Linked DNA regions of Homo sapiens. The protein of the gene in region 2 purifies or fractionates together with the protein of the main gene of each other region. This does not show direct contact. Each region holds a gene or a part of one and is shown on either strand. Other genes may lie near its edges. The genes, in order: CIAO3 and BRIP1.

Region 1 (3,916 bases), on a different chromosome or scaffold from region 2:
CACCCGCCTCGGCCTCCCAAAGTGCTGGGATTACAGGCCTGAGCCACCGCGCCAGGCCCAGTTTCTTTATTTTTTTGAGATGGAGTCTCTGTCTCTCAGGCTGGAGTGCAGTGGAGCAATCTTGGTTCACTGCAGTCCCTATCTCCCAGGTTCAAGTGATTCTCCTGCCTCACCCTCTTGAGTAGCTGGGATTACAGGCATGCGCCACGACACCCAACTAATTTTTGTATTTTTAGTACAGATGGGGGTTGGCCAGGCTGGTCTCGAACTCCTGACCTCAGGTGATCCGCCCCCCCTACCCTGGCCTCCCAAAGTGCTGGGATTACAAGCGTGAGCCACCGCGCCCAGCCTGAATTTTAACAGTTTCATCAGGATCTTATCACTTAGAGAGGAAGTACTATTCTTTAAGAATGAGGGGTCTGGGCTGGGCGCGGTGGCTCACGCCTGTAATCCCAGCACTTTGGGAGGCCAAGGCGGGTGGATCACGAGGTCAGGAGATTGAGACCATCCTGGCTAACACGGTGAAACCCCGTCTCTACTAAAAATACAAAAAACATTAGCTGGGCGTGGTGGTGGCCGCCTGTAGTCCCAGCTACTCGGGAGGCTGAGGCAGGAGAATGGTGTGAACCTGGGAGGCAGAGCTTGCAGTGAGCCGAGATCATGCCACTGCACTCCAGCCTGGGCCATCGAGGGAGACTCTGTATCAAACAAACAAACAAACAAACAAACAAAAGAACGAGGGGTCTGAATTAGAAAATCTTACATGGTTAGAACTAGGGGGAACAGGCAGACGCAGACAGGATCCACCATCTCTGCAAATAGCCCCTCTGCTGAGCAGATCAAGCTGTTTGGCCTGGGTGCTGCTCATTCACCTGCCCCAGGCACCCTGACCCCCAGCCTCCCAGATGGCAGGTGAATTCGACCAGTGGGAAAAGACTGGTGAGACCTGGAGTGTCTCGGGGTCACCGCTCTGTGACGGGAGGAAGCAGAGAAAAGTGTTTCGGATCAGCCGGGCAGGAGAGATGGTGGAGCAGCCTCCTGTGCCTTACTTGGTTAATTTGGAAGTAGCTCCCGTCATCTTCAATGCGAATCTTGGCCACGCCACTTCCCGCCCTTTTTTCCACTTTGACAGGCTTGATGCACTCCTAGAGCAGGAAGAGACCCCAAATCAGCCCCTGTGAGTGGGCGGAGGTTCCCTGGGAGGCCAGGCCTCAAGGATGGCTGCCCAGCCGCACAGCCTGAAGGCTCTGCCAGGAGCCATGCACTCAGGGACTGAGGCTGGTCCCACCGTCTTCTTCCTGCCCCACTGCTCTCACCCAGGGATCGGGTTCCCAACATCCTGCGGCACTGAAGTTCCCAGTGTGCAGGAAGGCCAGTGCTAACAGCGCCTGCAAACTACCCACCTGCGGAGACACCACCAACACTGACCTTCACCCTTCACGTGAACAGGGGGCGTGACCACCACAGAGACCAGAGTTGCACTGCCCATCGAGAGGACGTGTGCTTGGATCTGTTTGGAGACCACCTCCTGCTCAGTGCCCGGGAAACAAGTGGATTTCTCTCTCTTCTCCTTGAGAACCCTGGCAGCCCAGAAAGCCGCCTCCCAGCTCATCCCTGCCGGAAGCGCTCCCAGCAGCCCGCCTCTCGCCCTGCTCAGCTCTGGCCCCGCGGGGCTGTTGGACATGGACAGGCAGGTGCACCCAGAAAAGGGCGCCTGCAGCCTCCCGGGTTCAAGGGTAGCTGTCCGGCCCACCAGGGCGACGTTAAGGACAGCTCTACTGAGGAGCCACTGCGGGGCGTCTAGCGGGCCGCCCCTACTGCCCTCAAATGAGGTGGGGTCCCCACCGCACCCGTTTATGCAGATGCAAAGGCTGTGGCTTGGGGGTCCTGAGGCCTGACAAGGCGTCCTGCGCAGGGGAAGGGGAAGAGGCCCCGGCCCGGGCCCCGCCGCCCTCCAGCTGCGACCCAGGGGTCGGGTTAGGGTTAGGGATGTGTGGGAGCCGCCTCTGCTGCCTCCTCTGGGTTGGGCAGGCCGGCGCGAGCCCGCGACCACGGGACCCTCCCACGCAGCCCGCCCGGACACCATGGGGCACAGGAGCGGGTTGGGGGGCGCCGCCCTCCCTGGCCTCAGTTTCCTTGTTGGTAAGAAGCGGGCCTCAGTGTCTGAGGCCCCGCGCCCGGGTCGATAGAGTCCCTGACGGCCCAGACCGGGCTCCCGGGATTCGGATCTCATTCCTCAGGGGAGGAAGTGGGGCGCAGAGCAATTTCCCTCCGCGCGACAGGGCACCGAGCGCAGCCTCGACCCCGCCCGCCCAGGCCGGCCCACCTGAGACGGCCCGATGAAGTCATCCAGGTCCGTCAGCTGCAGCGCCCCGCTGAAGGGCGACGCCATGACGGCCGCACTGCCGCCGCGCGCAGGTGTCGCTAAACGGCGCGAAACGAAGTGGCTGGTTCCGCCACGCTGCCGGAAAGCGCCCCCAGGACGCATGCGCACCTCGTCCCGGGGCCGGCGCCCTCTGCTGACGAGCCCCGGCGCTGCGGCTCCCCGCCCACCTCGCGGGAACCCGGGACCTACCGCTTCGTCCACCTCCCGCGCGCCCCAGGCCCCGGGTTGGGGTGCAGGGGGCGCAGGGGTTGGTCGGGCCAGCGCCGCAGCTCCGGCCCCGGAGTCTCTCCGCCTTCACAAGGAAGCGGAGGGGATCTGGCTCCGTCCATTTCCTCATCCTCTGCGTACCTGCGGACCAGGTGCTCCCGGATGCAACCCAAGAACCCGGAACGCGCCTGGCACACAGGAGGCGCTCAGCTCGTGTTGGGGAATTCAGGCAGGGAAGAAAGCATGGATAGGCACGAGGTCTCCCCTTCCTGGGGAGCCGCTCCCAGGGCCTCCAGCCCCTTTTTCTGTTATCTTGGAGACCAGTCTGGAAAAGTCCATGCCCCTGGGAGACCCTGAAACAGGACCCTGTGGGCCGACTCGCTTTTCGTTTTTTTCTTTTTTTGAGACAGAGTCTCGCTCTGTCGTCCAGGCTGGAGTGCAATGGCGCGATCTCGGCTCACTGCAAGCTCTACCTCCTGGGTTCAAGCGATTCTCCTGCCTCAGCCTCCCGAGTAGCTGGGACTACAGGCGCCCACCACCACGCCCGGCTAATTTTTTGTATTTTTAGTAGAGACGGGGTTTCACCGTGTTAGCCAGGATGGTCTCGAACTCCTGACCTCGTGATCTGCCCGCCTCAGCTTCCCAAAGTGCTGGGATTACAGGCGTGAGCCACCGCGCCCGACCCCGACTCACTTTTTTTTTTTTCTTTTTTGAGACAGAGTCTCACTCTGTTGCCCAGGCTGGAGTGCAGTGGCGCGATCTCGGCTCACTGCAACCTCTGCCGCCTGGGTTCAAGCAATTCTCCTGCCTCAGCTTCCCGAGTAGCTGGGATTACAGTCACCTGCCATTGCATCCGGCTAATGTTTGTAGTTTTAATTAGAGACTGGGTTTCACCATGTTGGCCAGGCTGGTCTTGAACTCCTTACCTAGTGATCCACCCACCTCAGCCTCCCAAAGCGCTGGGATTACGGGCATGAGCCACCGCGCCTGGCCAGTTACATGTATATCTGGCATCATATGGCCAGTTACATGTCTAATGGCCAGTTTTATGGGGACTTTTCAGGAAACTCCTGGATCGAGGCTGGCATCTTTCCGGCCCAAGCAGGCTCAGCCCATGGAGATCTCACAGTGGCAACATCCTAGGTCCCAGCCTGCGCCGCACCCTCCCCAGGGTTCTAGGCCCTGATTCTGACCACATGTCCCCACCTGGATGCGGCCTGGGCACTCCTGCACCTGCCTGTGGGGTTTGGGCCACCAGCCTGTGTGGCCTTCTCCATCACCTGCAGCTGCTCCTCTCGGCCAGACAGGACTTTCTTCTGCTGC
Region 2 (3,816 bases):
TAGGTCCCAGTACCAAGTAAGTCCTGAGGCACCCCAACATTTAGATATCAAAAAGAATAAGAATTATCAAAAGAAATGATAAAAAAAAATGGACTGTGAGAAGGAGGAAAATCAGAGATGTCACAGAAGCTAAGACAAAAATGCTTTTCAAAGAGGTAGTCATCAACTACCCAACACCACTGACTGGCTGAGATAAAAGAAACAATAACCTCTGTATTTGGCAATATAGAGATCACTAGTGATCTTGATCAAAACAATTTGCGTAGAATTGTCCAGAGAGCAACACTGCTAAGATCGATGAGGGAAGAATGTCAAGTGAGAAAATAGAATTAGCAACTACAGACAACTCTTTCAACAAGTTATGCTGTAAAATAAAAACCACAAAAATCTGCATGGCAAAACACCACCAGAAAAGACACAAATGGCAAAATGGGGTGGAAAGTATTTACAACTCTTATTGCAGGCAAAGATTTTAATTCCCTAATATATGAATGGGGTTCTATAAATCATTAAGAAAAAGAACCACAATAAGAACAAAAAAAGGACAGAGATGTCAACAGGCAGTTGACACAAAAGGAAATATAAATGGCCTTTAAAGATGCTTAATTTCATGCATATTAAGGAAAATGAATATTAAAACTACATTGGGATACCACTTTTCACCTAGCAGGCTAGAAGAAAACAATTTCCATACTCTTATACATTGCTGGTAGAAGCATACATTAGCCCCCCTGTCATCCACCTATTGTGTAAATGTTAGCTATATCTATTGAAATTACAAATATGTCTATGCTTTCACCCAACAATTCCACTTCTAAAAAGATTCCTATAGATATATTTGCATACAAATGAAATTATGTATGTTCAAAGTTATTCATTATAGCAGTTTAAGAGCAAAAAACTAGAAACAACCTCCTCTATTAATCAGAGGCTGGTTAAATAAACTATTGCATATCTATCTAATGGAATTCTAGATATCTATTTTTTTTTTAAACTGAGAAAGCTTTCTAGGTCTTAACATGGAAAGGTCTCCAAAATACACTGGGAATTGAAAAAAGCAAGTTGCAGAAAAATGTATGTATACTATGCCATCATTTGGAAAATAGTGAGGGACAAGAAAATATATCTAATATTGGTTCATAAATGAGTAATATGCATTGAATGATAAACTTGTTTAGGAGAACACAGACATTAAACAGATCAGGGATGGAACTGGAAGGAGGTTTTTACTATACAAATTTGTATACATTTTGTCTTCAAACCATGTGACTGTGTAACATTCAAATTTTTTTAAAGTGTAAATGTGAAGGAAACAGAAAAATGCTACAATAAATGAAATGGGATTCAGAGTTGGGAAGTTTTTTTCTATGGTAACAAGATTCTAGATCAACAACTTAATGTCTAATAAAAGAAAAATTAGTGTAAATTGTCATAAAGCTAGTACTAAATATATTATTTTAGAGTACTGAAATCTTGATTAATTAAAACCCATGAAACTAGAATCCTATTTAAATTGGAGAATAAAGCAATAAATTAAAGCCATGATCCAGAATTTTAAAATATATTAATTAAAAGCACGTTTAGTTTCTGGTTCAATATCCTAGACACATCCTTCGGGGCTATTATGTTATCCTGCCAAATTAGGAATAAGATTCACAATTATTCATTTTTAAAAATCACTTATGTTCATTATATTCTTGTGAACAAGACAAAAGGTTGGACTAGCCTTGTTTTTAAAGCTTAACTGGCAAGGAACAATTCATTTCCCAAGAAGCCTAGTTAACCAAAGTTTACTAACTTTAAATACTCTGGCATAATCAAACATATTTTTCATATAAAGGCAGCACAAATACACTAATAGACAAATCTTCTTACTTAATGAGGCTACAGCACACAGCTCGTAGGGGTTCATGATCTTTCTTCCTTATATTATTGTTGACCATACTATCTAGTTCATCCCGAGCAAACCGAAGCTGAACTTCTGTTACACTGTAACTTGCTGATTCCCGAGCACAGTCCTCGATGTTATGAGCTTCATCTAAAATGACAACCTGTTCTTTCAGATTTAAATCCATCTATAAGATAAAAGAATTTTCTTGTAAAACATTTGGCAAAATAGATTTAACAACAGCAGGCAAGATATTTCATTTTAAAATTCACACTATAGGCCAATATTGCAAATGCAATTACATAAGCAACAGAGATTCTAGGTCTTAAATAAAACTTCTGAAGCACTATGGCCAACCAAATATCAGCTCTACATTATTGTGTTTGCCATTTTTTTACTCTTAAAATACTTTGCAAACCTATCGACAGCAACAAAAATATGTCAGTGAGTCTGGATCAAGGTACCACAGGCTACACAGAAAGGTATAAAATCCCACTATGAAAGTGTTTCCAACATAATTTTACAAACTAATTATAAGACCTTTAAAAATAAAATAACAATATAAGATTAAAAGCATAAGACCTTTAAAAGTAAAATAACAATACAAGATTAAAAGCATAAAACCTTTAAAAGTAAAATAACAATACAAGATTAAAATGACTCTTAAAATACTAACATAATATATATGTTTTGTTTTAATCTGTCCTGCAATCCTTCTCCAACATGGGAGTTGGAGAATTGTTCTTCTCCAACTCCCATGTGATGCTGGCAGGACTATTAACCTGTGAATCAAAGGACATCACCACTTTCACAATGGGGGTAAGGCCCAGGATTGTCAGTTAAATAGAGTATTCCATCCTTCTGTGGTCACAGTGACTGGTTCAGGTTCAGGAACAGACATGTGATCCACGGTAGGCCAACCAGAGTAATTTGGAGGGACTAATATGTGGCCATGCTCTTTTCTCCAGGTGAGCTAGCTGCTTATGGTTATCTTTGTTCCATAAGCAAGAGTGAGAACTTGCCTGAGAATAAAGCCATCACAATAAAGAGAATCAAGTATTTTTTCTTAAGCATTTTTTAGGGTAGGTTTGTGTCACTTGCAATAGAAAGAGTACTGACTAATACAAGGAACTGTCACAAAGCAATTGTCAATGAGTTATTTTGAGGAAGTAAGAATACACAGACAGCTGAAAAGTTGAGAAAAAACCATGGAAGAGTAGGAAATATATTGGGGTTTAAAAGATAAGTAGGATTTGGATTTGGACAGACAAAGAGTGGACAGGGCATTCCAAAGAGGTGTCATCAAAAGCAAAGATAGAGTAAAGAACAAGGTATCCTCAAGGGAGTATGAGGTAATTTTTGAAGGATTCAAATTGGGCAGATCCAGGTCAGACTATTGAGCATCTTGAGTGTAAGCTTAAGAAATATGAACTTTATCTCATGAGCAAAGGAAGCAATAGATTTTTAGGCAGATAAAAGGATGTAATAAAAGCAATATTTGGAAAACTGACCTGGCATTGATATGCACAGTGTCTCAGAAGGAAGAGATCTAGTTAAGAGATAACCAAATAAGAGGTAGGATAGAAGGGGTAGTAAACATAATGCCTATTAATTTGGATCTTAAAGAAATAGAAAGCTGAGATGAATTGTGCAGTCAGATCTGAAGACAGGAATAACAATTGACTATGCCAAATTATTCACTTTTTGTCTTATGCTGTTAACAATTGCATGTCTCTAAAAAGAACCAGGCAAACAAACACAAATGCCATTATCTGAAGTTCACTTCTCAAAGCTCACAAGGCATAATTTTATTCCCCCACATAAGTTCTTCAAAACATAGTTTTTTCAGAGAAATGTTTCTAAATAATTCTTTTTGAATATTCATAAATGCAAAGAGAAATCCTGCTGTAATCCCACTTCAGTCACTA

The links.
Region 1: the proteins of BRIP1 (region 2) and CIAO3 purify together in Homo sapiens (affinity purification with western blotting, with the first as the bait; one study listed by BioGRID). This does not show direct contact.

Annotation. Positions count from the first base shown.
Region 1 is NC_000016.10:738,594-742,509, forward strand, and holds the start of CIAO3 (cytosolic iron-sulfur assembly component 3), read right to left. Parts: upstream 2,405-3,916; 5' UTR 2,393-2,404; coding exon 2,327-2,392; intron 1,511-2,326; exon of another isoform or gene 1,429-1,510; intron 1,146-1,428; coding exon 1,050-1,145; intron 1-1,049.
Region 2 is NC_000017.11:61,797,225-61,801,040, forward strand, and holds part of BRIP1 (Fanconi anemia group J protein), read right to left. Parts: intron 2,076-3,816; coding exon 1,876-2,075; intron 1-1,875. UniProt on the Homo sapiens protein: DNA-dependent ATPase and 5'-3' DNA helicase required for the maintenance of chromosomal stability. Acts late in the Fanconi anemia pathway, after FANCD2 ubiquitination.